4 linked regions of the Homo sapiens genome follow. The protein of the gene in region 1 interacts with the protein of each later gene in a pairwise test. Each region holds a gene or a part of one and is shown in the gene's direction. Other genes may lie near its edges.

Region 1 (8,266 bases):
TCTCCAAAAAAAAAAAACTAAAAGACTTTATGTGGCTCCATTTTACCTTTTAGACAATATGCATGTATTACTTTGATAAAAATAAAAGTAACTGAAAGAAATCCATGTAGTTAAGAACACACACACACACACACACACACACACACCTGAAAATCCCATAGTACATCCCGCCCTCGGTTTAATAATCAGGGTAGGCAAAGGAAGGAAGGCTTAGCCAGCCAGCGTTTTGTTAACCTGCCTTATATAAACTGCACACACCCACCCACACCCTTTATGTAAATAGAAATAAATGTACCTTTCTTAATTGCAGCAATAATTCTGGGATTCAGGTCCAGTAGATCCAAATCCATTTTGTCGGTGGGCTGGCCACCAGGATGAATAACTTCCCAGGAAAGACAGAACAATGGATGCAAATTCTGAGGCACTCGCCTTCAATTCAAAGCCTGTGGGAGGCCCGAACCAGGGAAGTGACAGCAGCCGAGGTGTCCGTGTCATCGGGGCTCTGTCACTGAGGGTGGAGGAGACTTCACTGTAGAGGGAAGGCTGTCTAGCTACATCTAGGGCAACATGTCTGTCATTTACCTCTAAGAATTATTTAGCAGCTTAGAACCCATTCCAGACACTGATGCATTTGAAAAACCCCCCAAACCCACCACATTTACCTCCTGTGGAAAGTGCTAGAAATAAGACCATCCTCCTGCAGCAGTTGAGTGCCCTGCCCGACTCACCTCTCTGGGGCTTGGGGATGACCCGCGTGTTTTTGGCTGACTTGACTGAGGCATCTCTTGCACTCTGCAGTTTAATTTCCCTTAAGTGTCTCCCTGGGGACTCTGGAAAGAGTGGGAAGGTGAGTCTGGGATTGGCAGGGTGCTCAGGGATCCAAACATCAGTCGCCCCCAGCAGCCAACAGCAGAAGACAGCTTCCTGTGGGACGGGAGGAAGGTGCTGTGGACCCCACCCAGCCTCTCCCAGGAAGGGAGCTGGCAGCCATTCCACAGCCCGAGCCTGGCCCAGCAAGGGAGAAGCTCAGCTCTTCTCCCCTCCGGCCTCAGCAGGCTGCTCAGGGACTCAGCCTGGGGTCACATAAGGCCTTTCCAACAGGCCACTCTGCATCCCCTGTCGGCCTCCCAAATGGTGAGACCAAGAGTGTCCAGGACATGGGGAAACTGGAAGGCAGCAGCCTCGAGGGCCGGGTCCAGGATCCATGTCCTCCAGTGAGGCCTGGCGCCCTTGGCCGTAACCCAGCAGAGGAAAGGGCGGGCCGTGGACTTGGAGAAGGTTTTCCCTTGGACCACACAGAATGCGGCACTGGCCTGGACACGATCACGCTGGTCACTCGTATGCCCATGTTCAGCCTGCTCAGGGAGACAGGAACAGACTACAGGAGCAGCAGGCTGAGGCACGCCCCCAGGCACCCCGTGAGGCGGGCAGGGCAGGGAAGCTGGTGCTCCAGGATGCGTTTCCTGCCCGCGCACCAGGCTTGGCTCCCGGGCCCCCACAGCCTGTGGGTTTTCTGAGCAAGGGACAGGGAGGTGCCCAGGCCTGGTTGCCCAGGCAGGCCTGACAGGAACTGGCGAGAAGCCACCCTGGAGGGCCGGGCGCAGGCCAAGGCAGGGCGGTGGGGCGCTGAACCAGCTCCAAACTGCTGGCAGAGCTGGCCAGAGTGAGGAAGTGAGGTTCCCAAGCACAGAAGGCAAATCAAAAAGGAATGCCACCTCCAGGGAAGACACTACACTGCCAAAGGAGATGCGGCCTTGCCCGGCTCGAAAAGAGGTCATTTTCAGAACATGGGACTCTCCAAGCCCTGAGGACAGGAGGCAGCCTGGGGAGTATGAACCTCGCACCTGGTAGGGGACCCCACACCCGAGGTACCACCCAAAACACAGCCCAGATCTGCACGGAGGGATGGTTCCCTGAGCAGGCGTGACTGTCACAGACAGGCTGGGCCTGGGGGCTGTCGGGAGGCTGCTGTCCCAGGCTGGGTCTGGATACAAAACTTGGACTGTGTCAAGCAGCGGGACGCTGGCAGGAGCACCGGGAAGGCCAGCACGTGGCTGCAACGTCTCCCGCCTTCAGGACGCGGGCCGAGGCCAAGGCACCTGGAAGCAGAGTGTCCACTGACGGATAACAGACTCACCGGTTGGCCAACGGCAGTCCGGCTCCTGAGGCTCCTCCTGGGCCCTCTGTGCACATCCTGCTGAGAACTTGGTTTAACAGGCCTGGCTCAAAGTCTGTTTAGTGACGACCTCCTCCCGTGTCCCATCACCCTTGACAGCTGATTAGGCGCCTCATCTTCCACTGTCCCCCGGGCGGCCTGATCTGGCAGGTCAGTTGAACCTGCATCCCCTTCGCCCCTGGGGGTTCCTCTTAGCAACCTTCCATCCTCTGCCCCTGCCCAGCTCTGGAGCTGTAAGCCGCCACCAGCCCATGGCCTGTTCAGAGCTGAGCCCAGCCTCTCTCCCACTGCAAGACCGCAGTGTGGTGGTTCCCACATCTCTCAAAGGTTCTGAATGAAAGCCTGGTCTCTGCCTAACGTGCTTTCACAGATATCCTGGAATATTTTCCCTTTAACACCAAGCACCTGCCGCATCCCAGACACTGGCCTGGGAGCTCCACAGACAGCCCGGCACATGCCTCTGTCCTCTCGCCGCTGTGAGGGGCAGGGGTGTGACCAGCCCATCTCTCTACACCGGGGTGAAGGCCACACACAGGGAGCAGCCCACAGCAGGCAAGGGGCTGGCCCAAGACAGACCTGTATGTCTTCCTGCAGCACCCGAGCTGAGCAATGACTTCAGGGGGAGAGCTGATGTCACGTGCTGCTAGGTGAGTACGGACGGTCACACCAGAGCTGTTAGGCTCACACACCAGACTCTGGAAATGCCGTGGTTACTGCCTGGAGCTGCTCTGAGCCTTCCGAGGTGGACTCACTCCTCTGCCTTGGGCCCTGGGACCTGCTGTGTAGCTTTGAAGTGATTCACAGCACTTACATAGTCTGATGTTTTGGGGTGACCTGACCCCCCTGCAAGAGTGTGATGTCTTATCAGACCACATATGTGAGGACTTGAGTGAACTCCGCAACCTTGGGAATGCCACTTAAACCTTGTCAGACACTCCCTTATGTGAGTTACTGACCCTGACTGCTGGACTGCAAAAACAGACATCAGCTTGAAGGTTGTGCAGATGCTTTGAGGCAAGCTATACGCTGCTGGCCTGGGAGCTGGACCTCGGTCCCAGCTTCTCAGAGAGCTCCCGCTCTCACGCTCTCCACTGCTACCAAGGCAAACCTCGAACTCTCACCAGATCTCACTCTCCAGGGGCCCGCTCCATCCCAGCAGAGCAACCGGACCCTGGCCGTTCTGCCACTCACCTCCCTGCCGTGAATGCACCCCATCCATGGAGGCCCTGCTTCCCTGCCAGGTGTCTTCACCTCCTCCCCTCTCCTCCCCTCTGAGCACTGTGAACCCGAGAACAAATCTTCTTTGACAATAAACCGTGTGATTCGTGGAATCATACTTTGATCATCTCCTTATTTCCTCCACACACAAGGACCCCTGCACTGCCAATGGCCCCAGGAGAGGGCAGAGTCAGCCACAGGGACCCCACCTCACAGGCTTCAACACTGCTGATGCCTGTCATCCCAGCACCGTGGGAGGCCAAGGCGGCCAAGGTCGCCTGAGCCCAGGAGTTCAAGACCAGCCTGGGCAACACAGCAAGACCTACTCTCTACCGAAAAAAAAAAAAAAAAAGAAAAATAGCTGGCCAGTGTAGTGGCGCTTGCGGTCCCAGCTACTTGAGAGCCTGGGAGGTCGAGGTTGTGCCTAGCTGTGAAGACGCCACTGCACTCCACCCCGGATGACAGAGCCAGACTGTCTCAAAAAAAACAATAAAAATTCACGCCTTGTAATAAGGAATTAAAGGCAGGATGAACAAACATTTTCTTCTTTTTTTTGTGTGCTTTCTGAGATGGAGTCTTTTTCTGTAGCCCAGGCTGGAGTGCAGTAATGTGATCTCGGCTCACTGCAACCTCCGCCTCCCGGGTCCTGGTTCAAACAATTCTCCTGCCTCAGCCTCCCAAGCAGCTGGGATTACAGGCACGTGCCACCACACCCAGCTAATTTTTGTATTTTTAGTAGAGACGGGGTTTCACCATGTTGGCCAGGCTGGTCTTGAACTCCTGACCTCGTGATCCGCCCGCCTCGGCCTCCCAAAGTGCTCGGATTACAGGCGTGAGCCACCGCGCCCGGCCTAAAGGATTTTCTTTCCAAATCAAAGTATTAAAATAACTGTTCAGACCTCTCCCACTTCGATGCGAAGCCAGCGCGGTCCCAGGCGGACGAGCGAAGGCATCGAAGGCCGGGGGCGCAGCCGCGGGCCCACCTCGGCCTCCCCTGAGCGGACGCCTCCCCGCGCGCACCGGGGGCCCCGGAGACCGCCTTCCCCGCTCCGAACGCACGCGGCCCGGCCCCGGCGAGGTGCCTGAACGCTACCCGAGCTGCGGCGGGGCTCCCGGGGTGAGTGCTGCAGCCCCAGGCCCGCCTGCTCCCACAGGCTCGGGCAATGGAGACCCGCGGCCGCCCCCGCCCCTTGACCCTGCCTCACCCCTCACGCCCGCTGCCGCCCACGACCTCCGACCCCGCTGCCGCCCGGCTCGCAGCCCGGCTCGCAGCCCGGCTCGGCGGGCCTCACCTCCCGCGGGTTCCGCACTCCTCTTCCCGCCGTCCTGCTCCTCTCGGCCTTCTCCTCCAATAGGCGCCTAGCACCCTGAGTGGGCTACACCAATCAGAGACGAAGCGGCGCTAACGTGACTGACTAACTAACCAATCCAAAGTCTCAATCTCCCTGAGAGGGGCGGAGCGTACCCGGGCCAGCCCTCGCCGCCGATTGGTGATCGACCTCAGGGTTGCAGGGGCGGTGCCCTTACACGGATTGGAGAGGGCAGCGATGGGGCGGAGTTCAAGCTCCGATTAGTCCGCGCTCCGTGGCGGGCTTGGCGATTGGACGCCGGCGCTGTCAGCCGCGCGCGGACCGGGGCGGGGCGGGCGGTGCCCCGGGCTGGGCGAGGGGCCGGGTGCGGGGCCGCTGGCCGAGAGGCTGAGGCGGCGTCATGTCCTCCGAGGTGTCCGCGCGCCGCGACGCCAAGAAGCTGGTGCGCTCCCCGAGCGGCCTGCGCATGGTGCCCGAACACCGCGCCTTCGGAAGCCCGTTCGGCCTGGAGGAGCCGCAGTGGGTCCCGGACAAGGAGGTGGGTGGCCGTCGCCCCGGCCAGCGCCTCCGACCCGCCCCGCCGCCCCGGCCCGGCCCCGCGGGCTTCCAGGCTCCCGCGACGACCCCTCCGCCTCCGGGCGGCCCCTTCCCCAGCCGGCCCCCGCCCCCGCTCTCTCCCAGGTTGGCCGCGTCCCCGGGCCGCCGCCTCAGGCTCCTACGCCCGCGGGGAGGGCGGGAGGCGCGCGGTGTCCCGGTGCGGGGGTCCCGGGAGGGCAGGAGGCACCTGTCCAGGGCGGGCGCCGGGAGGCGGGGTGCGGGGCGCGGGCTGGTCCCGGGGGTGGGTGCGGCCCTGCCCGAGGCCGGTTCGTGCTGGGCTAGCGCGTGTGGACTGCGTCCCGAGAGCTGGGGCTCGCTCCCGAGAAAGTGGAAGGCGGAGCGCCTTCCTCGCAGGCTCGGTGGGGAGGGCGCGTGCTGTCCGCGGAAGCGCTGGAGCTGGCGGCCCCGCAGGGGTCCCTCCCGGGAACCGGGGGAGGCGTCGGTGCCGCGGGCGGGTGGCCGGTTCCGAAGCCACCTCCTGCTCGGAAGGAGGGCCAGGACCCAGTCTGCGGGCCAGGCTGCCCCCCGTTTCCCTTCGTCTATACCACCCTCCACCTCGGAAGCGAGGTCGCAGTCGCCCACTGGACAGTTTGAAGGAGACCGCAGATTTGCACCCGTTTCCCATGGGCCCAGACACGGCAGGAGTTGCCCAGGCCACTCCTGCAGACATTGGGGCGTGGGCGTGGGGTCCCTGAGCCAGGCCATCCGCTGGGCCTCCCGTGGGGTTCCCTGTGACCTGATCGGAGGTGCCTTTGCCTCACACCAGCCCCTTGGCCAACTGGGAAGGCCCCGAGTGCATTTAATCCCACTGGCTGTGCGCTAACAGGTGTGTCCAGTTTCTGTTCTGTGGATTTTACCACGATAAAAAAAAAATTGGGGGAGAAAAAGAATTTTTGTAATATGACTTTCATACTTAACACGTGTTACAGATTCGTTTAATTCCCTCAGTGATAGAACTAAGCAGACGTTGGAACTAGGTTCAAGAAGTCAAAGTAGCACTAATTGACTGGGTTCATTGAAGCTTGGTTGGAGGCCTGGTGGGGGGTGAGCGGCCACAGAGCCTCGGGGACAGGACGGAATTCGAGTGACTCTGGGGAAGTGTCTCTGGCATCTACAGTGTACGGAGCCATCACCGGTCACTGAGCGTGTCCTGGAGAGTTGAGACCAGTGCTGCCCACCTCTCCCCAGTATCGCCACCATGAGGAGTCTTTTTAGACACTTTCCGCCAATCATCCTCCTTCATCTTTTTTAAAATTTACTTTTAAGTTGACACGTGAAAATTGTATTTATGGTGTAACGAACTCTTAATAGCACAGAAATACTCTACGTCTGTATGAACCGTAAGGAGCACGTGAGAAAGTGTGGCCAAGATGAGGCAGAGGTTTCCACCAAAGCACAATTTCTTTCTCCCTGCTGTACACATGCACTGATCTTACGGTTCTGTTTTATAGTGAACCACTGTGTTCCCCTCCTTCATTCTCTCTTCCAGAGCCCTTCTGGTATCAGCTGAATTGTTTAGCATTTTTCCCTGCCTTTCTTTGTGGCCTCTGCTGAGGCACTGTGTGGCAGTCCCGCGGTGACTTCCGACTGAGTGGAGTTGAAACACTTGAGTCAAGGTGGCACCCCTCGTGGAAGAGAAGATTCATTCCCACGCTGGCGTGGTGGCAGGATACCCCTCCAGAGCCCCCCACCATGTTTGGATGATTAACTGGGATCTGAGCAGCTGAGGGAGGTCCTAGCATTGGGTGGGCTTGGGGGACAGAGAAACCATTCTAATAAGATGGACTTTGTCTCTGAGTTTTGCGTTGTGAATTGTATTGGAGCATGGTCTTACAGGCCAGAAACGACCAAAGACAGTGTTCTGGAGGAACTTAGAACGGGGCAGTAAGGGCTGGAAGATTTGGAATAAAGTCCAGCTTTAGGTGCAATAGCTCGAGGGGACATGTACGGTAACAGTCGCCTGGCATGTGGTGATGCTGAAGGGGACACTGAGCTACACTGTGCTGGCTGCGTGCTTGGGGCCGCTAAGGTGATTGTCGGGAGGTGACTCAAATGTGCAGATAACCAGTTGTGGGAAATAGGTTTATTTGAGGTGGTTTGGAATGGGGAGAGGAGAATTTGGTAGAACTTGGCAGGTGGGTAACATTGTCCTTGGCTTGGTGGCCGTGTGCCGATCGGCATCATCGTCATATCTGTAAACGTGTTGGTCCATTTTCATTCCAGCTCTGTTCTTAGCCAGGGGAGTCTGAATCCAGCCCAGTGCCCGTCTCCCGAATACCAGCTGCCTGACCGGGCTGGTTTATCAGTTTGGGCCCATGAGGGTTATCCCTTTAAAATGCTGCAAAACCCCCTGGGGAGCATGTGCACACATGCACCTTTCTCCGAGAGGTGGCCTGCAGCTCTCAGATTCTCAAGGCTCTGACGCAGAACCAGTTGAGAATCGTTTCTCCAGTCTGTGCCTCCTCAGGAACCTGTGGGGCAGGGGAGGCAGAGGCGGCGTGTAAAGCTTCGTGCGACACCACTTTGGATAGAGGTGCTTTGGGGGTGTGAAGGAAGCTTCAGATGATCTCTGGGGCTTGTCTGACTCTGCCATCAAATATCCGACACTGACGCAAGGCAGTGGGCTTGGGGGTGGGCGGTCCGGGCGTGCAGCCATCTGGGCTTGTCACAAGCAGCTGAGATCCTGAGTTTTATCCTTAAAATCCTTGCCGCTGTGCACCCCTCCCACCTCCCATCCGTGGTGCTGGCAGAAGAATGACCGCAGCTCCATGCTGGCGGGTTGACACTTTGATGGATACTCTAGATTCAGAGCCAGGAAGGAGAGAGCACGTGCGCGTCTGATCACGAGCCTGGACTCGGATGAGGAGAGATCTGAAGTGAGGACTGTTGCTAGAGGCGTCTGGAGCTGTGCAGCGGGGAGAACAGGGGACCCTGAGTTCTGCGAGGGTCTCACAGGCCAGGCCGG
Region 2 (8,248 bases), on another chromosome or scaffold:
AAAAAACAGGCACGGTGGCTCACGCCTATAATCCCAGCACTTTGGGAGGCTGAGGCAGGCAGATCACCTGAGGTCGGGAGTTCGAGACCAGCCTGACCAACATGGAGAAACCCCCATCTCTACTAAAAATACAAAATTATCCGGGCATGGTGGCACACTCCTCTAATCCCAGCTACTTGGGAGGCTGGGGCAGGAGAATTGCTTGAACCCGGGAGGCGGAGGTTCCAGTGAGCTGAGATCGAGCCGTTGCACTCCAGCCTGGGCAACAAGAGTGAAACTCCATCTCAACAACAACAAAAAAAAAGTGATCCACCCACCTCAGCCTCCTAAAGTGCTGAGATTACAGGCACGAGCCACTGCACCCAGCCCTCTAGTTATGTCTTTTTTTTTTTTTTTTTTTTTGAGACGGAGTCTCGCTCTGTCGCCCAGGCTAGAATGCAGTGGTGCGATCTCGGCTCACTGCAAGCTCCGCCTCCCGGGTTGACACCATTCTCCTGCCTCAGCCTCCCGAGTAGCTGGGACTACAGGCGCCCGCCGCTACGCCCGGCTAATTTTTTGTATGTTTAGTAGAGACGAGGTTTCACCGTGTTAGCCAGGATGGTCTCAATCTCCTGACCTCGTGATCCACCCGCCTCGGCCTCCCAAAGTGCTGGGATTACAGGCGTGAGCCACCGCGCCCGGCCTTTCTTTTTTTTTTTTTTTTTTAAGACGGAGTCTCGCTCTGTCACCAGGCTGGAGTGCACTGGCACGATCTTGGCTCACTGCAATCTCCACCTCCCGGGTTCAAGTGATTCCTCTGCCTCAGCCTCCCGAGTAGCTGGGACTACAGGCGTGCACCACCACGCCCAGCTAATTTTTGTGTTTTTAGTACAGACGGGGTTTCACCATGTTGGTCAGGTTGGTCTCGAACTCCTGACCTTGTGATCTGCCCACCTCGGCCTCCCAAAGTGCTGGGATTACAGGCCTGAGCCACCGCGCCCAGCCCTCTAGTTGTGTCTTTTAATGACAGATGTGCACTCTGTTGGGTACACGCGTGCCTGGGAGTGGAATTGCTGGTTCATGGGATAGACCATGTTTAGCTTTCATGGACGTTGCCAGACCCTTTCCAAAGTTCGAGTGCCATTCTGCATCCAACAGTGTAAGGAAGCAGCAGCTGCTCCACATCCTTCCTCCACTGGGAGTTGTCAGTCCTTTTCATTTTTGCCACCTTGGTGGGGCAGTGAATCCATTTCCCTCGAGGCAGCCTTCCTAACACAGCTCAGGGAGGCAAGTCAGAGGAGGGGCTGGGGCCAGGCCTGGGCCTGCCTGCCTCCCAATGCCAGTGTCTGTGGCCAGGATGCTGAGAGTGAGTGTGAGTGGGTGAGTGTGCAAGTGCATGTACACACCCACTGCACAAGACAATGGATGAGGGAGAAACTCCCGAATCTGAGGGGGAAAGGCAGTTGGAGGGCAGGGGCCATGTGCGCTGGGCACCCCTGGTGACCCCAGAGTACAGCCTGGTCCTGGTAGGGGCTACATGAGCCCAGACCTCTCCTAGGAAACCCACACATACTGTTTAATTTTTCTGGTGCAGGGGAAGAGACGCTCCCATAGACAGGTGGGGAGACTGAGGCCCAGAGACGGGAGGGCTTTCCTTGAGGTCACACAGCAGGGACAGTGACCCACATTTCTGGCTGAATGTGCTAAGGTCTTCCTGCTTTCCCAGCACCGCTTCCTTGGGGATCCCAGGAGGGAGGGAGGAGTCCTCAGGCTGGAGGCACCCATCTTTTTCTTTTTTTTTTTTTTTTTTTTGAGATAGGGTCTCGTACAGTGGCACAGTCTCAGCTCACTGCAACCTCTGCCTCCTGGGTTCAAGCGATTCTCTTGACTCAGCCTCCTGAGTAGCTGGGATTACAGGCGTGCACCATCACGCCGAGCTAATTTTTTTTTGTATGTTTAGTAAAGATGGGGTTTCACCATGTTGGGCAGGCTGGTCTCGAACTCCTGGCCTTAAGTGATCCGCCCATCTTGGCCTCCCAAAGTGCTGAGATTACAGGCGTGAGCCACACCTGGCCTGGGACTCACAATCTTCTCAGGTGCCCCCTCATCTCCCAGCACACCAACCCCCTACCCCCCTAATTCAGGGCCCATCTGCCAAAGGCCCCTTCCCTCAGGGACCCCATTTCTCACCATCTCATGATGTCTCTGCCTCAGGCCCTCCTCTCCCACATTACCCCTGTGTCCAGGTCCCATCTCCTGAAATTCCCTTATTCAAAGTCCCCCCCCACCCTCCCACTCCTAGGACCCCTCCTGCAATGTCCTTGCCCCTCAGACTCCACTGTCCCCCTCCCCGTCTCTTGCCATGGCCTGCGCTGTTCGACACCTCCAGGCCTCTGCCTCTATGTTCTCTGCTCAGAACAAAGACCAGTGGGTTTTGGAATGAAATTGCTTTCATTCAGTTCCTATAAGGAAACCCAACAGCTCTCATAACAAAAGTCCATCCTGAATCTCCTACGGCCTGCCACCAAAGAGGCAGCTGGAGCTCTGTCCCAATTCTATTCCCCAAGCTCTGTCTTTCGGTGGAGGTTCTTCCAAGGGCTACCTCTGCTGCTTTGGCCCTTTGAATTCAGATGCTGCTCCCCTATTCCTGCTCGGGGCTAATTGTGCTATTGCACTCCTCCTTTGGTGTTTTCTGTTTTGTTTTGTTTTGTTTTTTTCTGAGACAGGGTCTCATTCTGTCGCCCAGGCTGGAGTGCGATAGCACACTCTTGGCTCACTGCAACCTCCGCCTCCTGGGTTCAAGTGATTCTCCTGCCTCAGCCTCCCGAGTAGCTGGGATTACAGGCATGTGTATTTTTTTTTTTAGTAGAGATGGGCTTTTGCCATGTTGGCCAGGCTGGTGTTGAACTCCTGACCTCAAGTGATCCACCCTCCTGAGCCTCCCATAAGTGCTGGGATTACAGGACCACGCCCAGCCCCGCAGTCCTCCTTTGATTTTCAAGTTTGAATCCTATTTAGAAAACCTGATTCCAGGCCAGGTGTGATGGGTCACGCCTGTAATCCCAGCACTTTGGGAGGCTGAGGTGGGCAGATCACGAGGTCAGAGTTTGAGACCAGCCTGACCAACATGGTGAAACCCCGTCTCTATTAAAAATACACAAATTAGCTGGGCATGGTGGTGCACACCTGTAATCCCAGCTACTCAGGAGGCTGAGGCAGGAGAATCGCTTGAACCCGAGAGGCGGAGGTTGCAGTGAGTAGACATTGTGCCACTGTACTCCAGCCTGAGCAACAGAGTGAAACTCCATCTCAAAAAAAAAAAAAAAAAAAAAGGAAACCTGATTCCACTAAAAGCCTGGGGGTGACAAAGAGGAAATAAACAGTAACTAGCCAATCTGATCTTCAAAGTGTAACTCTTCCATCTTCAGTGTGGGGCCCTTGCAAAGGGCTTCCCTGCCTATTGCGCCACCAGCCCCTCAGACAGGGCCATCTTCCTCCCACCTCCTGGGAACACCTTCCAGCAGGCCTCAAAGCACAAACCCTAAACTGCTGTAGATCTTGGAAGACAAGAGCTGGGCCTAAAAGAGTCACTTGGGGCCAGGCGCAGTGGCTCACACCTGTAATCCCAGCACTTTGGGAGGCCGAGGCGGGCAAATCACAAAGTCAGGAGTTCGAGACCAGCCTGGCCAACATGGTGAAACCCCATCTTTACTAAAAATACAAAAAATTAGCTGGGCATAGTGGCGGGCGCCTGTAATCCCAGCTACTCGGGAGGCTGAGGCAGGAGAATCGCTTGAACCCAGGAGGAGGTGGAGGTTGCAGTGAGCCAAGATTGTGCCACTGCACTCCAGCCCTGGCGACAGAGTGAGACTCCGTCTCAAAAAAAAAAAAAAGTCACTTGAACCTGGGCATGGTGGCTCACACCTGTAATCCCAATACTTGGGAAGGCCAGGCAGAAGGATCGCTTGAGTCCAGGAGTTTGAGACCTACTGGGCCAACACAGCAAAATCCCTTATCTACTTAAAAAAATTTTCAAAAAAAAAAAGGTCACCTGGTTATCCCATATAGATATTTTCCTTCCAGCCCCACCCAGCTGCTTTGGAAAATTAGGATCCCAGTCTGCTTAAGGGAGCCCAGGCTTCCCTATACTTCCACACACATTTCTTGAGGCCCTGTTCTGGTTCACCCCATTAGAATTCAATTAGAATTCCAGCCCTGTGGGCCAGGCACAATGGCTCACGCCTGTAATCCCAGCACTTTGAGAGGCTGAGACAGGAAGATCACGAGGTCAGGAGTACGAGACCAGCCTGGCCAACATGGTGAAACCCCGTCTCTACTAAAAAAATACAAAAATTAGCTGGGCGTGGTGGCGGGCGCCTGTAATCCCAGCTACTCTGGAGGCTGAGGCAGGAGAATCGCTTGAACCCAGGAGGCAGAGGTTGCAGTGAGCCGAGATTGCGCCATTGCACTCCAGCCTGGGCAACAAGAGCGAGACTCCATTTCAAAAAAGCCCACAAAACTTCTCAACCTTTTGTCTTTCCCAACTTCACTCCCTTCTCTCCAAAGGTGTGTGTGGCGGGGTCGGAGGTGTCCCTAGCCCCAACTCATTCATCTTTGGGACTCCACAAGGTGGGGCAGGGGGCAACCTCAGATACCCCTCCAGCAACCATGGCCCCCTCACTAGCCTCAATCTCTTGAGGAAGGAATCAATTCCCACAAATTATCTAAATCTTTCTACTCAAAATGTAGTCCATGGACCAGGGGCATCAGCATCACCTGGGAACTCAGAAATGGAAATTATGGGCTCCACCCCAGACTTGCTGAATGAAAACATCTGGGCTAGGGCCCAGGAATCTGTTTTAGCAAGCCCTCCAGGTGTTTTTTTATGCCCTCTAGAGTCAGAAGGACAGCTCTGCACGGTCCCCATTGTGCCTTCCCTGGGAGAGTACACAACGCCCGCTTCTGCCGTTAGAGTTCCCATAACGCCCTCGCTCCTGACAGCCCACATGCACCCTCCTGAAACTACAACTCCTATAATACCCAGAGGCGCGCGCCGTCACTTTCTGGGATTATATCTCCCAAGGTGTTTTGCGAGTCAGACCGCCATCATAGCGCCCATCCTCTTAGTCACCGTCAGGACTACAACTCCCACAATACTCGGCGGCAGAACTACAGTCCCCAGCTGCTCCGGGGCTGCGCCACGTCGACTCCGCTGGGTGGGGCCGGCGTCGGGCGGGGCCGGCGGGGTCTTCAGGGTACCGGGCTGGTTACAGCAGCTCTACCCCTCACGACGCAGACATGGCAGCGCAGAAGGACCAGCAGAAAGATGCCGAGGCGGAAGGGCTGAGCGGCACGTGAGCGAGCTGGCTCTAGGCCCTCGGACCAGAGACCCGGGAGTCCGGGCCCCCGGCCCCCTCCTCCCTCCTCCCTCGAGAGCCTGGAGTCCCAGCCCCGAGCCGCAGAAGTGTTGGCCCCGGTCTCCTCTAATGGGACCCTGGAGTCTGGGCCCCTAGTCCCCTCCCTGCCTGCTGTACAGGAATCTGGGGTCCCGGGAGGGAGTCCAGGCACCCTTAGTCCCCTTCTTTTGCGGGGGTCTGGGGCTCCATCCCGGTCCACCACTGACCCGGCCCCACCCCCCGCAGGACCCTGCTGCCGAAGCTGATTCCCTCCGGTGCAGGCCGGGAGTGGCTGGAGCGGCGCCGCGCGACCATCCGGCCCTGGAGCACCTTCGTGGACCAGCAGCGCTTCTCACGGCCCCGCAACCTGGGAGAGCTGTGCCAGCGCCTCGTACGCAACGTGGAGTACTACCAGAGCAACTATGTGTTCGTGTTCCTGGGCCTCATCCTGTACTGTGTGTGAGTGCCTCCCGGGCCCCGCACCCGCACTAGCCCCGACCGGCTGGACCCCTCCTCTCGCCGCTCAGGCCCCGCCCTTCACCGCCCGGTCCCTCCTCTCACCGCCCAGGGCCCTCTTCTCACCGCCCAGGCCCCGCCCCCAAGGATTGGCTCTGCTAGACTACCTTGTCACCAAAGGGCCAGGTCCCCTACCCCACCATCACCCTGGCCAGGATGCAGTGTGACTAAATGTCACCTGGCCCTCCCTGGTCTCCAGGATGTAGCTTGCCGCCCGCCGGTGGAGAAGGCCAGGGCCGTCGGGCTGGCCCAGCCCCAGCTGTCTAACCGCTGCCTCCCTGCACTCCTCCTCCAGGGTGACGTCCCCTATGTTGCTGGTGGCTCTGGCTGTCTTTTTCGGCGCCTGTTACATTCTCTATCTGCGCACCTTGGAGTCCAAGCTTGTGCTCTTTGGTGAGAAACCCCCTGCCCAGATGAATCCTTGGTCCCTCAAATCTTGGTCTTTTGGAATGCAGACAGACCTCAGACCCCAAATCCAAGTCCTTCAAAACCCAAGTCCGCCCAAGCCTAGATGTACACTAGATCCCCCAAACCTGATCCCTTAAAATCTCAGACACAACCGATCCTTCCATCGAGTCTCAGCCCCCTCAAATTGCTATTCCTCAAACCCAGGATCCACCTGGCTGCTGTGCCTTAAACCTACTCCTTTTCAAACCACATGACTCCTCCCCTCTCTCTCCTCCCCTTGCCGCTCTCTGCGGCCAACATCAGCTGCAGGTGCCCACACTGGACACCAGGTGGCCACCTTACACTGGCCTAGATCTGTTCCCGTTTCTTTTCCTGCTTTCTGGGGTGTGACCAGAAAGAACTTGGAACTTAGAGAGGGAAGCCGAGGAGTATGTTTCATGTGGTTCCCAGACTAGTAGTACCAAGGACCACTGGGAAAACAAAATGCCAGGGGAAATTCCCCCCAGGGGAAAATCAAGGTTTGGAGTGGGGTCAGGGAGTTGGGATTGGACAGTTAGGTAGACCTGAAGGCCAGGCTCTTCAGGGGCCTGCAAGTTATGTGCTTGATGGGCTGGGGTGGAGGGAGTGCCTGAAGCACAGGCACGACTTGGCTTCAGCTGATCACCGTCACCAGAGCATGTAGACCCCATCCCTGAGACTTCTATGAGAAGCCTGAAGTTGGTATTTTTATGTGAAATCGTTCACTTTGCCAGCCACAAATCACATCCTTGCAAAACAGCTCAAAAAACACATCCACAGGTCAGATTTGGCCCTTGGGCCACCAGTTTGAGACCCTGGTCTGCGCGAGGGTTGCAGCAGGAGAGCCCTAGTCTAGGGAGCAGGAAGCCGGGATCCCAGGAACTTCCTGGAGGATGTGGGGCAGAGGGCAGAGGGTGGGGCTGAGGCAGGCGAGGACGGTGTGCTGTGTTCTGGAGGGCAGTGGGGACAGCAGGGGAACAGGGTGACCCCAGGACCTGGAGGGCCTTGGCATGAGGAGTTTGGATTCGATCCCGAGAACCTGGAGCTTGTACGGATTGTTGGGGGGCAGCAGGGGTTACTCTGGGAGAGGGCATGGAGAGTCGGAACAGCACCCCAATGCCATCTGCCCCCAGGCCGAGAGGTGAGCCCAGCGCATCAGTATGCTCTGGCTGGAGGCATCTCCTTCCCCTTCTTCTGGCTGGCTGGTGCGGGCTCGGCCGTCTTCTGGGTGCTGGGTGAGTACAGGGTCTGAGCAGCTGGGGTGGATGGTGGGAGCCAGGTGCAGGAGTGTGGCCCTGAGCTGCCGGCTTTCCTGCAGGAGCCACCCTGGTGGTCATCGGCTCCCACGCTGCCTTCCACCAGATTGAGGCTGTGGACGGGGAGGAGCTGCAGATGGAACCCGTGTGAGGTGTCTTCTGGGACCTGCCGGCCTCCCGGGCCAGCTGCCCCACCCCTGCCCATGCCTGTCCTGCACGGCTCTGCTGCTCGGGCCCACAGCGCCGTCCCATCACAAGCCCGGGGAGGGATCCCGCCTTTGAAAATAAAGCTGTTATGGGTGTCATTCAGGAAATATTCCCCCAGCATCTTCTGTGGGTCTCTATGGGTGGAGCTGGGAATACTGCACAGAGCAGGGTTGGGGTGGAACCTGGGGTGTGGGCAAGACGATGACAAGGTAAACAGGTAAAATATTATGGGATGCCCAATGGTGGTGAGTGTTCAGGAGGAGAAAAGAGTTGAGAAGGACAGTGTGCCGGGGGTCCCCGAGACCACCCCCAGGTTTGATGGTTCTTTAGGACTCAGGAATCAGAGAGCACCCCAGGTTTGATGGTTCTCTGGGACTGGGGACTCAGTATGCAATTGCACTCACAGCTCTGATTTACTCTCATCAAAGGGTATGGAGCCAAGTCAGCCAAAAGGAAAGGTGCATGGAG
Region 3 (6,291 bases), on another chromosome or scaffold:
TGTTCTGCAGAGTTCTCCTTTTAAATTCTTGTGTAATATTCCGTTTGTTTTGCTCCTTTGCAATTAACTACAAACTTCTAAGTCCTAGAAAAGATTTCAAGTATTTATAGAGTGAGCAACGATCATTTTCCTAGTCAAATAGTATGGCAAAAATCACTGTTTTAAAAAGTTGTGGCATTAAACTATAAATCCTCCCTCCCCTCGCTTCCCACCCGCAATTATGAAAGAAAAGCATATGACAATGCCTACTGGGCTCAGCTTTTGGGCTAATTGAGTCTGACTGAGCCTTCTTAGCAGGTTCCTGTCTTTTGAAACCTCAAATCCCAAAAAGCTGTCTAATAATTTTACTTTTTTAGGGACTAAGACCAGGTATTTTCAGCAGAGGTTCTTACTTTTCTGTAATTGAGGCGCAACTATAATGTTCCAGAACACAATCTTAAATCTGAAAGTGAGAGGAAGAAAAAAAAAAAAACGGCCTGAGCTCCAGAAATAGCTGACCCAGAAGAACACTAAAATCTAGCTCTCAGGCTCATAGGCAGCTGTTAACATTCACATTTTGACAGCTTCCTTTCAGGTTTCTTGAGCTCTCAGAAAAATTAGAAGGAAGTGGGCTGGGGATATAGAGAGAGTCCAAACTACCAACTAATGAATGAATCTGAAGGAGACACAGAAGGGCAAGTAGAGTTTAGAGTTTGAGAGTGCAGGAAAGTTTTGAAATGGTCAGAACTGCCAGAGTAATTTCTGAGATCTTACTAAGCACTCTCCCACCGTTTGCCTTAAAGATACCCCTTCCCCCAAATTGAAACATCACAAATCTGCAGAGCTCTTTAATCAGGTGTGTTATACACAGTGAATTTAATTCTCTTATTGCCCTGGAAGAAAGATAAACCAGATGTGGCCCTTGCCCCTTTTCAGTAAGTATTTGTTAGATCTTCATTACATTTTAGGCCTCCTTCCTCCAGTCTCGATACTGTGCAATGGAGAGATAAGCTTTGACCTCTTCAGTTAATAAGTATTGGCTATAATGTTGCAAAGTATTTGCCATGGAATCGTGTAGAATTTGTTAAGTCCAAAATGAGAGCAGCCTGTTTGCTTCTTTAAAGTGTTTATTGACCTTATTCCTGCCATGTTACAAATCCATCATTTGTGGTGGATTCCCATTAATAATGGTTACTCTCTAGGTTAGTTCTTGCTGCCACCCCTTTCTCTCCTGGTGGTGTGTTCCCTGAATACACTTAACCACTATTTCTGTTTTGGGCCGCCGAAGTATTCAGTTTTCTCAACATAGCTGCAACATTTAAAAATTATATGATAGCACACAAAAGTGTACATTTCTGGCAACACTGGCCTGGAATATTTGCATGGCCACAGCGTATGGAGCAGGGTTGTAAGTGCCCCTTTGAGAGGAAGAATGCATATCACTGTGTGCCTCAGTTCTCTCCCAGCCTCTCACATACATGTATGTCACCTGCCTGGCCCTAAGGACATTTGAGACCTCCCTGTGTTCTTCTCTTTGTCTTGGGATAGCCTGGCTTTTAGGAAGTGTTCTCAAAGAGGCAAGTGACATTTGAGCCCCTACAGTGGCTCAGGTGTGAAGTCTTGGGCTTTTCCCCTGTGGACTTGGAGTGAAGCCTTGTCAGTGACTGTAATGACCAAATGAGGAGTTATTTTAGCTTGTGTTTGTTACTATCTTCTGTCATGTTAAGGGCATCTTCGTTGCTAGAGTAATTTCTTCTAAAATATGGAAGGTCAACACTTTTCCCTTTAGACTTGTGGATAGTGATGGATAAAAATAACTCTCTTACTCTATAGTAAACTTGCTCAAGTGCAAAAGTTATATTTAGCTTCAGCAATAGGAGTCTATAAAACTGTGAGAGAAAAGCCTTACTAACTGAAGTCATCCTTCAAACCTTTCTACCAGGGGTTCCAATAGCAATTGCTAAGAATACGGCAGCTTAAAAAAATTTTTTTTCAATTGACAGATATTAAGAATGCCTGATATTTACTGACTTGAACATTAGTTAAATTCAGTTAGGGTGACCAGAGTGTTGCTATTTGTAGAACTGTTGCTTGGTAGAGTCATCCAAAGTGTCTTCCTAAGCTGTAATAAATATGCTTACTAATGTTTGACTGCTTAATTAATGGTCAGTAAGCATTCAGTCAGAGTTCGTTTAATACATGGAGAAAGATATATGCTTTAGATCAAGGGTTAGCAAACCACTGCTTGTTTGGGCCACGGCCTGTTTTTGTATAGTGTGGGAGCTAAGAGTGGGTGGTGTACATTTTTAAAGGGTTATGACAACGACACAGAATAATATGAGACACAAACCCTATGTGGCCCATAAAACCTAAAATTCTACTGTCTGGCTCTTCACAGAGAAAGTTTGCTGATCCCCGCTTTAGATAATGGGGGTGCTCTACTACTCCCCTTTTCATTTATAGTGTTACATAAGCCTAAATAATCACTGTAGCTGGTGGCATCATGTTTGTTACCTACTAAGTAGGTCAAAGTGATTGCCAGACATACACATGAAGGCCTTGAATTAGAAAGCAAAGGAACTGATGATGACCAATGTTTAACAAAATTCAGACTGACTTTGTGCCTGATCCTTCAAAGGCTAGAGGTGATATTTTTGGTACCTGAAACGTAATTTCCCTGATAAGTACTCTTTGCCCAATTATTGCTTATCAGCTGAGATATTAATGTCTGAATTATTCAGCTCATATATCTTCAAGCACTCAACTAGTTCATACTTTGAAATCAATTCTAATAGACAATTCTCATAACACCTTTATAGTCTTCCCATTTAAAAGGTAAATGTTGTTAGGGCTGGAGGGGTAAGATGCACCCTTGGTATATTGTCTGATCTCAGCAGAATCAACTACTTGGTAGTGTAGTCCAGAGAAAATGGGTCAAATCTATTAATTATTTTAGGATTTTGAAATTCATAATTGAGACTCGTGACTTAATAGTGAACTGCTCATGGTACTTTACCCAGTCTTCAAGTTGTATGCCTTTTGTAGGTAGGCATTTAGATGGGATGCTTTTGAAAGCATAATTAAGAAACTTTACTTGAATTTTGTTTATAATGGGCTAATGTTATTTTCTTATAGTTTGCAGTGTTGATGTGGGTATTTACCTATGTTGGTGCCTTGTTTAATGGTCTGACACTACTGATTTTGGGTAAGTCTACAAAGCCATTGGGATGAAAAATTGCTGGAAAGATTGTGTGCCAGGAGCTTAGACATTTTAGTGGAGAATATTCTCATTGTATGAAAAGTAGGGGATGAAAATGTGGGCCGGGCGCGGTAGCTCATGCCTGTAATCCCAGCACTTTGGGAGGCCAAGGTGGGCGGATCACCTGGGGCCAGGAGTTCGAGACCAGCCTGGCTAACATGGTGAAACCCCATTTCTACTAAAAATAGAAAAAATTAGCTGGGCGTGGTGGCGCACGCCTGTAATCCCAGCTACTCCGGAGGCTGAGGCAGGAGAATCACTTGAGCCCAAGAGGCAGAGGTTGCAGTGAGCGGAGATCGTGCCATTGCACTCCAGGTTGGGCAACAAGAGTGAAACTCCATCTCAAAATAAGTTTGAGGTTGTATTCTCTTTAAATAAGTTGGTGATACTGCTTCCCGGTTTATTGAAATGCTACCTTAGTTGCTGAAGACAGCTCCTACTAACAAACAGTGATAAACCAGATAAAGGGTGGCTTTATATGATGGTGCAGTCATAAATCTAACCAGGGATACCTTTATTTTATGAAATCTCACTGTGATATGATTTGAAGCTAGAAATGGTTCCTAGCTCTAATAACTGCAGCCTCACACAGTTCATTCATTCCTCTGGAGTGGCTCCTCAACAGCAGATGCATCCAGAGATCCTTATGTTTTTATTCATTCATTAGGAACACTGCTTGGTTATCTTGAGTTGCCAGTTTAATAGTTTTTTGAGTGTTTATTCCTCCCAAATCATTCCGTTCTTTTTGAAAAGTTGTATATTTCCCTTTTCAGCTCTCATTTCACTCTTCAGTGTTCCTGTTATTTATGAACGGCATCAGGTAATTTCCTAACTAACTGCTGACTTCAGAATAGAGCACTCACTCTATTACATGGGATTTACGGATGTATTAGTGCCCATTTTCAATGTCTTACAAAAATGAGAAGTGTGATGGTTTCTTAAGCCTTTAGCTTGACACATAGTAGTGGTTAATAAGATTCTTTAGCAACGGTAATAATTCCTTTATACCTCTCTTTCAGGCACAGATAGATCATTATCTAGGACTTGCAAATAAGAATGTTAAAGATGCTATGGCTAAGTAAGTATTTAAAATCTGCAGTGTTTTTACTAGGATAAGGTGTGCTGGATTGTGAGAACAGTATTTTCATATTGCAGGCATAATGAGTAACAAATCTCTATCAGACCTTAAGTGTGACTTCAGAGTTGCCAAAAGATTGTTTTTCTAACATTTGGACCATTCGTTTCTGGGTTTATTATGTGTTTAAGGCTTTGTTTAAATCTAATTCATGAGGCCAAGGTGGCAAAATTATAGCTTAGAATTAGGCAGCTTTAAGGATTTCATTTATTGTATTAGCTGAATAACATACAAGTAGTTCTTGGAAGATGGTATTTTAAGCAGCAGCAAACAAAACTGATATTTACATTGACTTTTTCATTTTCAGAATCCAAGCAAAAATCCCTGGATTGAAGCGCAAAGCTGAATGAAAACGCCCAAAATAATTAGTAGGAGTTCATCTTTAAAGGGGATATTCATTTGATTATACGGGGGAGGGTCAGGGAAGAACGAACCTTGACGTTGCAGTGCAGTTTCACAGATCGTTGTTAGATCTTTATTTTTAGCCATGCACTGTTGTGAGGAAAAATTACCTGTCTTGACTGCCATGTGTTCATCATCTTAAGTATTGTAAGCTGCTATGTATGGATTTAAACCGTAATCATATCTTTTTCCTATCTATCTGAGGCACTGGTGGAATAAAAAACCTGTATATTTTACTTTGTTGCAGATAGTCTTGCCGCATCTTGGCAAGTTGCAGAGATGGTGGAGCTAGAAAAAAAAAAAAAAAAGCCCTTTTCAGTTTGTGCACTGTGTATGGTCCGTGTAGATTGATGCAGATTTTCTGAAATGAAATGTTTGTTTAGACGAGATCATACCGGTAAAGCAGGAATGACAAAGCTTGCTTTTCTGGTATGTTCTAGGTGTATTGTGACTTTTACTGTTATATTAATTGCCAATATAAGTAAATATAGATTATATATGTATAGTGTTTCACAAAGCTTAGACCTTTACCTTCCAGCCACCCCACAGTGCTTGATATTTCAGAGTCAGTCATTGGTTATACATGTGTAGTTCCAAAGCACATAAGCTAGAAGAAGAAATATTTCTAGGAGCACTACCATCTGTTTTCAACATGAAATGCCACACACATAGAACTCCAACATCAATTTCATTGCACAGACTGACTGTAGTTAATTTTGTCACAGAATCTATGGACTGAATCTAATGCTTCCAAAAATGTTGTTTGTTTGCAAATATCAAACATTGTTATGCAAGAAATTATTAATTACAAAATGAAGATTTATACCATTGTGGTTTAAGCTGTACTGAACTAAATCTGTGGAATGCATTGTGAACTGTAAAAGCAAAGTATCAATAAAGCTTATAGACTTAAAATATGCTTTGGTATTTTCATTTCATGAAATTGCAGCAGATTAAAAATGCACACAGTGGGTAAACTGCTTCAACCAGCGAATGGTAGCTTGTGCTTTTAGAAGGGTTTTTTTCAGCTGATGGTGCAGCTGTTTGTTTGTTTACTGTGGAAACAAAAGTCAACAAATGTGTTTACATAATCAAATTTTATTTGACACATAAAATGTTTAAGTGATGTGTTTTATACTTTGAAAATAAATTCATGCACCAATGTTTTAACTCACATATATCATACAGTGCAGGATTTATGAACATACATAAAATCAAAATCATACCATATAAACGTTTACAAATAAGTTTTTCATGACACACGGACACTATTGCTCTTTAAATATGGTTGTACATGTCATCATTAATCGATTCATTGTTCTTCCACATGGTTATTTCAATGCAAGATCCGATCAGCATGAAGAGTCTAGTACAAGATAGGCAGACATGGTTATCACTCTGCATCACCAGTCACATGGTTACAGAAAACAGAATTGGGACTGCATAGGGACTCTACTGCGGGCCCAACAACCTATTAGTGGATTGATGTAAGGCATTAGTAAATTGGCATATAAAA
Region 4 (7,528 bases), on another chromosome or scaffold:
TTTCTCTTTTCTCTTTCTCTCCCTCGCGCTCTCTCCCTCTCTCTTTCTTCTCACTCTTTCTTTTTCTTTCTTTTTTAAACACTGGGTCTAACTCTGTTACCCAGGCTGGAGTGCAGTGGCACAATCTTGGCTCACTGCAACCTCCGCCACCTGGGCTCAAGAGACCCACCCACCTCAGCCTCCCAAGTAGCTGGGACCACAGACGCACACCACCATGCCCAGCTAATTTTTTGTATTTTTGGTAGAGACGGGGTTTCACTATGTTGCCCAGGCTGGTCTCGAACTCCTGAGCTCAGGTCATCTGCCCGCCTCGGCCTCCCAATGTGCCTGGATTACAGACGTGAGCCACCACGCCTGGCCTAGATTTGTACTTTTCATCCGGAAGAACTTTTGGGCCTAGCCCCCAGAATCTCGCCTAACTCTGTTGTTTGTTAATCTCTAGAACTTAAACTCTGAGAGGTTATATGTGGGTGAGTAAAGGAAAGGGACCTGCTTGAAGGGTATGGCAACTTCAAATGGTTTTGGTGTAGTTGGCTTCCCAGCCTTGATGAAAATCCCACAAAACTCCAAGAAATTGGACTCTAAATTTAAACTGAAAAGAAAATAAGAAGTCATTATGAAGATACTTCTGAGATGTTACAAAACTCAGAATCCATCAAGAAATATGAGTAAGTTCTAACTCTGCGGTTTGGAGAAAAATTTGACTTTTAAAAATCAGGAAGCTGAGGTGGGGGGACTGCTTGAGCCTAGGAGTTCAAGGTCACAGGGAGCTATTATGGTGCCTCGGAGTAGCCACTGTGCTCCAGCTTGGGCAACGTAGCAAGATCCCATGTCTAAAAATAAATTTAGTGGTGTGTATGTTTTTTTTTTCTTTGTGTTAGACTTTTGTTCTTGATGCCCAGGATGGAGTGCAATGGCACCATCTCAGCTAACTGCAATCTCCGCCTCCTGGGTTCAAGCAATTCTCCAGCCTCAGCCTCCCGAGTAGCTGGGATTACTGGCGCCTGCCACCATGCCTGGCTAATTTTTGTATTTTTAGTGGAGACGGGGTTTCGTCATGTTGGCTAGGCTGGTCTCAAACTTCTGACGTTAGGTGATCCACCCGCCTCAGTCTCCCAAAGTGCTGGGATTATAGGCGTGAGCTACTGCGACTGGCCATAAATTTAGTTTTTTTAGATTTTTTTTTTTTTTTGAGATGGAGTCTTGCTCTGTCACCCAGGCTGCAGTGCAGTGGCAAGATCTTGGCTCACTGCAGCCTCCACCTCCCAGGTTCAAGTGATTCTCCTGCCTCAGCCTCCCAGGTAGCTGGGATTACAGGCGCCCACTAGCACGCCCGGCTAAGTTTTCTATTTTTTAGTAGAGATGGGGTTTCCCCATGTTGGCCAGGCTGGTCTTGAACTCCTGACCTCAAGTGATCTGCCCATCTTGGTCTCCCAAAGTGTTGGGGTTACAGGCGTGAGCCCCTGCGTTGGGCTGTAGACTTTTTGGTGGTGTTTTTTGTGGCCTATTGCAACCTGTAGATCCTTGCTATTCCAAGTTTGGCCTTAGGCCAGCAGCATTGCCATCACCTAAGGGCTTGTTAGAAATGCAGAATCAGTGGCCTTACCCCAGAACTTCTGAGTCATCTGCATTTAAACAAGATTCCCCAGGTGATCCACGTGTACATTAAAGTTTGAGACTTACCTTTCTATATCCTTTCAGTGTTAACCTTGCAACAGGCCGGGCTCACGCCTGTAATGCCAGCACTTTGGGAGTCCGAGGTGGCTGGATCACTTGAGGTCAGGAGTTCAAGACTAGCCTGGCCACCATGGTGAAACCACATCTCTACAAAAATACAAAAAATTAGCCAGGCATATAGCGAGTGCCTGTAATCCCAGATACTCCAGAGGCTGAGGCAGGAGAAGCGCTTGAACCTGGGAGGCAGAGGTTGCAGTGAGCTGAGATTGTGCCCTTGCATTCCAGCCTGAGTGACAGAGCAAGACTCCATCTCAAAAAAAAAAACAACAAAACCTCACACAGGTGCTAGCAACCAGCTTTCGATAAATAGTCAACCTTAAAGCTGAGATTTTTCGGTAAAATGAGACTGCCAATACCTCCCTCAAAGGATTAAGAAAATGAAATAATATGTGTAAGTTAGTACCTACCGTATTAGGTATCTAACTGATGTGCAATAAATGTTAGCTGTCATAGTGCTAACAATGCCTGTCTCTAAAGAAACTGTGTGAAAATATCACCAAAAACATAATTATGTGTTTGAATTAAAGATAGTTTAATTCCTTATGATTTAAGTTAAATTGGTATTTTTAATGGAATGTGATTGGATACTAAAGCTAATCTGAAACATTATGAAAAAATTAAACGGTGCAGTTGCATAGATTTTATCTTTTCTTTTTCTTTTTGAGACAAGGTCCTGCTCTGTGCCCAGGCTGGAGTGCAGTGGTACAATCATAGGTTACTGCAGCCTCGACCTCCTGGGCTCAGGTGATCCTTCCACCTCAGCCCTCCAACTAGCTGGGACTACAGGTGTATGCCACTATGCCTAGCTAATTTTTAAATTTTTTGTAGAGATAGGGTCTCCCTGTGTTGCCCAGGTTGGTTTCAAACTCGTGAGCTCAAGCAATCCTTCCTCTTCGGCTTCCCAAAGTGCTGAGATTACAGGCATGAGTCACTTACCTCCGCCTATATCTTTTCAAAATGAAACCTGTACGTATCTCTTAGTTGGGGAGAATGTCTAGTGTGGTTAAACAACTGATTTAAATTATCTTCTTCCTCCTTGTGTGAATTTTTTTTTTAAATGAATAAAGACAGTCTAATGAGACTGTGTTGCCCAGGTTGGTCGCAAACTGGGATTACAGGCGTGAGCCACCGCACCTGATCCACATCCCTTTCTTGAGCCCTTCCCATGCCTAGATGACTTTCTGACAATGTATTTGTATAGGACTTTTTAATAACAAAAGATGGGTAATAGGAATTTTTTTTTTAAGACAGATTTTTGTTCTGTCACTGCAGGCTGGAATGCAGTGGCATGATCATAGCTCACTGTAACCTCGAACTTCTGGGCTCAAGGGAGCCTCCTGCCTCAGCCTCCTGAATAGCCAGGACTACAGGCATGTGCCACTATGCCCTGCTATTTTTTTTTTTATTTTTGTAGAGACGAGGTCTTGCTATGTTGCCTCAAACTAGAGGCTAATCTCGAACTCCTGAGCTCAAGCAATCCTGCTGTTTTGGTCTCCCAAAGTGCTGGGATTACAGGTGTGAGCCACTGCGCCTGGCCTGGAAATGTTTAAATGCAAATTTTAGCTCAGCTGATTTTGATGTCTCTTAATCTCATCGAATCTGGGTTCCTCAGTTGTACAGTATGGGTAGTAATGACTAATTGACCATTTTAGGAATTGTAAGAATTAAGAGGTTAATGTTTGATAGTTGCTTTCTTACGTAACTCAAAAACAAATGTGAGTATTTGCACTTCAGGGGTGGGTAATGGCATCTCTTTTATTTGGTGGAAACCTTGTTAGTTTTTTAAATCTCAAGCCAGTCAGCACAATCCCTGGCTGGTTACTGTTCTCTGGAGGATGTGCAGGGGTGGGGCAGTAATACATTATAGAAATCATATGCAACACAAATATAGCTACATTTACAAAGCTGCAACTTTGAGAAATGACTGGCTGTAGACATAGCACTGAGCTTATCAGCCCCAAATCCCCTCAGTTCTGTTGGAGGGGCTGGTTCAACTGAGGTTCAGCTGGGTTCCTGATTCGTAAGAGCTGGTCAAATGACCAGGCAGACACACAATGACCCTGGTCAAACCGTGAAGGGTTCTGCGTTTTGTTTACTACTGAAGATTCCTTTGTACTTCTGGCTCCCATTTATCCCTGAAGTCATGCATATACAAGCGCATAATGGTAGATGAAGCAGTGGGTTTCTCTATGTTGGATTCTCAGATCCACCATTCTGTGGCTCCTTGTAAAACAGTCCCATTTTCCTTTAGGAAGATTGTTATCTTTAGGAGTTGTCTTCCTGATCAAGGACTTGGAGTCAAATAAATTCTGGCAGAAAAGCAAAGTTATAATTACTCTTAAGTTTTTTTGATGATTAAAAATAGTGAAATTATAATCCACGATCTCAAAAGAAGTTGTTAAATGTAGAGCGTACATGTGTTTTACAAAACCACACAAAGACAGTTCAAGAAAATGATACTACAGACCAATATTCCTTATATGAACACAGACACAGAAATCCTCAACAAAATACCATATAGAAAATAAAACCCAGCATAATGGAGAAAGAATAATACACCAAACCAATTTGATTTATCCCAGGAACAAAAAGGTTGGTGCAGTTTTTGAAAGTAAATGTTATAGGTGTACACCATATTAATAACTTAAAATAACAGGCCAGGCACAGTGGCTTATGTCTGTAGTCCCAGCACTTTGGGAGGCCGAGGCAGGTGGATTGCTTGAGCCCAGGAGTTCAAGACCAGCCTGGGCAACATGGTGAATCCCCTTCTCTACAAAAAATACAAAAATTAGCATGACATGGTTGTGCATGCCTGTAGTCCCAGCTGTAGGCTAAGGTGGGAGAATTGCTTGAGCCCAGGAGGTCAAGGCTGCGGTGAGCCGCGATCGTGCCACTACACTCCAGCCTGGGCAACAGAGTGAGACCGTTTCTCAAAAACAAAACAAAACCCAAAGCCACATGATTCTATCATTTGATGCAGAAAAAAAAAACTTTTGACAAAATTCAGTACTTTTCCATAATAAATGCTGTCAGCAAACTTGGAAGAGAAAGGAACTTCTTCAACCTGAAAAAGGGCATCTACAAAAAATCTACAGCTAACATTATACTGTAATATATAATGTTACAGTGGGGAAAGAATGAATGCTTTCCCCCATGATGGGAAACAGGCAATGATGTTTACTGTTACCACTCATATTCAAGATCATACTGGAAGTCCTAGCCGTTGCAAAAAAATTAATAGGAGACGTACAGATCAGAAATAAATAAAACTGTCCCTATTCGCATATGGCATGATTAGGTAGATAATCACATGGGAATCTATAAAAAACCTCCTAGAACTAATAAGTGAGTTAGCAAGGTTACAGGATATAAGGTCAACACACGATAACCAATAGTATTTTTATATCCTAGCAATAAATCATTGGAAATTAAAACAAAAAAACCAATATCAGTTATAACAGCACTCAAAAGAATGAAATTCTTAGATATAAATCTCACAAAACATGTATAGAATCTGCTCACTGAAAACTACAAAACACTGAAGTAAGAAATCAAAGATGACCAAAATAAGTAGACAGGCATTCTGTGTTCATTAGGATTGGAAAACTCAATATAGTTAAAATATTAGTTCTCCACAAATGATCTATAGGTTTAATACGATCCCAAAATCCTAGCAAGGTTTTTTTGTAGATAGAAGAATGCTGATTCTAAACTTTATATTAGCCAGGCAAAGGGCTAGTGATGGTTTATGGAGGTATGTTCCAGGGAGAGAGAACAATGACATGAAGTCACCCTTGTTTAGGGTAGAATGTGTGTGTGTGTGTGTGTGTGTGTTGAGGGGAGTGTTTCTGAGAGTATGATGGACTTCGTATCTCTTATCGGCCATGAGACTTTTGGCAAGCTACTTGTTCACTCAGGCCACAAGCAGATCTCCTGCAGGTCTCTCACTTGGGGATTGTAAGTTGGGGATAATGGTAGTATTACAGTGCTGGTGAGCCCACCATGCTCCCTAGCTCAGCGTCTCAAGACACCACGTCATCAAAGCCTGTTGGAGGTTGCTATGGTCTGAATGTTGGCATTCCCCCAAAATTCAGATGTTGGAACCTAACACCCAGTGTGATAGTATTAAGAGGTGGAGCCTTTTGGGAAGTAATTAAGTCATGAGGGCTCAGCCCTCATGAATGGGATTAGTGCCCTTTTAAAAGAGTTTGAAGGGAGTGTCCTTGCTCATTCTGCCATGTGAGGACACATAGAAAGTGCCGTCTGTGAAGAATGGGCCCTCACTCAGATACTGAATCTGCTGGCACCTGGATCTTGGAGTTTCCAGCCTCCAGAACTATGAGCAATAAATTTCTATTTATAAATTACCCATTTTGGCCAGGCGCGGTGGCTTACACCTGTAATCCCAGCACTCTGGGAGGCCGAGGCGGGCAGATCACAAGGTCAGGAGATCAAGACCATCCTGGCTAACACGGTGAAACCCGGTCTCAATGAAAAATATAAAAAATTAGCCGGGTGTGGTGGCAGGCGCCTGTAGTCCCAGCTACTCAGGAGGCTGAGGCAGGAGAATAGCGTGAACCCAGGAGGCGGAGCTTGCAGTGAGCCAAGATTGCGCCACTGCACTCCAGCCTGGGCGACAGAGCGAGACTCCGTCTCAAAAAAAAAAAAAAAAAAAAAAATTACCCTTTTTACGGTATTTGGTTATAGCAACCAGAACAGACAACAGACTGATAGTGATACAGAATATCTCTGGAATGATACAAGTTGGGGAGCTGGGTGGCCGAGGGCCAGGGTGTCAGGGAGACATTTTCTGCTGTATAACTGTTTGTACCTTTTGTATTTTATTTTATTTTATTTTATTTTTGAGACGGTCTCGCTATGTTGCCTAGGCTGGCCACAAACTCCTGGGCTCAAGCGATCCTCTTGCCTTCAGCTCCCAAAGTCCAAGGTTTACAGGCATGAGCCACTGCTCCCAGCCCTTGAATTTTGTACCACATGCAAGTACCTTCTATTCAAAAATTACTAAAATAGTAGATGTTACTAGCTTTACCTTAGTATAGCCTTAAAGCTCATATACTGACTGTAATCTTTAACTTTTCATGACTTTCTTTGTAATTTGGAGGCCCTTGGGAAGAATGATTTAGATAATACAGACCACTTGGACAAACTTGAAGCTTAAATTGTTTTAAAATGCACTTTTCTGTAAAAAAAAAAAAAAAAAAAGCATTCTGCACAATAGTGGGTGCTTAATAAATTTGTTGATGCTAATGGAAAACTTCTTCCATTTGAAAGGAATTTACCCTCATTTGTTAGTGAAAATGTTGTAACATTAAAGAAAATTAGAAATTAGAAAAATAATCATCGTATTATGACAGACTCAAATGAAAAGGACTTGGAAATTTTTTCCTTTCCAAAGGCTACATATGATCCCCTGTGGCAAAGTCTGGTGATTATGTTTTCTAGTTTTTTTGCTATTAGGAAGATGCGTCAATAAATGTCCTCATGAGTGTAGCCTGGATTCTTCTTTTGAATTATTATTTTTGGTTAAATTTCAAGGAGTGCTTTTACTACATCAAAGGACAAGACCACCACATTTCTGAACATTTAAAAAAAAAATACAGACTTGGTTGACATTTCCTCCCAAAGCATATCTGAAGGTCTCAGTTTATTCCAGGTTTCTAGTATGCTTACCCACAAGTACAGACAACTGGGAAATGGTGACCTCTGTAAGTCCTAATGGCTCCTCCTGGACCACAGGGCTAAATTAATTCTTTCTCCACAACTTTGGAGG

The links.
Region 2: the proteins of ZFYVE21 (region 1) and RABAC1 interact in binary tests that used the Homo sapiens proteins (3 or more experiments, as listed by UniProt).
Region 3: the proteins of ZFYVE21 (region 1) and RTN4 interact in binary tests that used the Homo sapiens proteins (3 or more experiments, as listed by UniProt).
Region 4: the proteins of ZFYVE21 (region 1) and CMTM4 interact in binary tests that used the Homo sapiens proteins (3 or more experiments, as listed by UniProt).

What each region holds. Positions count from the first base shown.
Region 1 is NC_000014.9:103,710,738-103,719,003, forward strand, and holds the start of ZFYVE21 (zinc finger FYVE domain-containing protein 21), read left to right. Parts: upstream 1-5,072; 5' UTR 5,073-5,104; coding exon 5,105-5,242; intron 5,243-8,266. Other genes in the region: DNA repair protein XRCC3, read right to left, coding at 296-350. UniProt on the Homo sapiens protein: Plays a role in cell adhesion, and thereby in cell motility which requires repeated formation and disassembly of focal adhesions.
Region 2 is NC_000019.10:41,956,322-41,964,569, reverse strand, and holds RABAC1 (prenylated Rab acceptor protein 1), read left to right. Parts: upstream 1-5,248; 5' UTR 5,249-5,277; coding exon 5,278-5,333; intron 5,334-5,621; coding exon 5,622-5,834; intron 5,835-6,186; coding exon 6,187-6,284; intron 6,285-7,450; coding exon 7,451-7,552; intron 7,553-7,635; coding exon 7,636-7,724; 3' UTR 7,725-7,887; downstream 7,888-8,248. UniProt on the Homo sapiens protein: General Rab protein regulator required for vesicle formation from the Golgi complex. May control vesicle docking and fusion by mediating the action of Rab GTPases to the SNARE complexes.
Region 3 is NC_000002.12:54,971,588-54,977,878, reverse strand, and holds the end of RTN4 (reticulon-4), read left to right. Parts: intron 1-3,114; coding exon 3,115-3,184; intron 3,185-4,011; coding exon 4,012-4,058; intron 4,059-4,257; coding exon 4,258-4,316; intron 4,317-4,680; coding exon 4,681-4,723; 3' UTR 4,724-5,690; downstream 5,691-6,291. UniProt on the Homo sapiens protein: Required to induce the formation and stabilization of endoplasmic reticulum (ER) tubules. They regulate membrane morphogenesis in the ER by promoting tubular ER production.
Region 4 is NC_000016.10:66,686,571-66,694,098, reverse strand, and holds part of CMTM4 (CKLF-like MARVEL transmembrane domain-containing protein 4), read left to right. Parts: intron 1-7,528. UniProt on the Homo sapiens protein: Acts as a backup for CMTM6 to regulate plasma membrane expression of PD-L1/CD274, an immune inhibitory ligand critical for immune tolerance to self and antitumor immunity. May protect PD-L1/CD274 from being polyubiquitinated and targeted for degradation.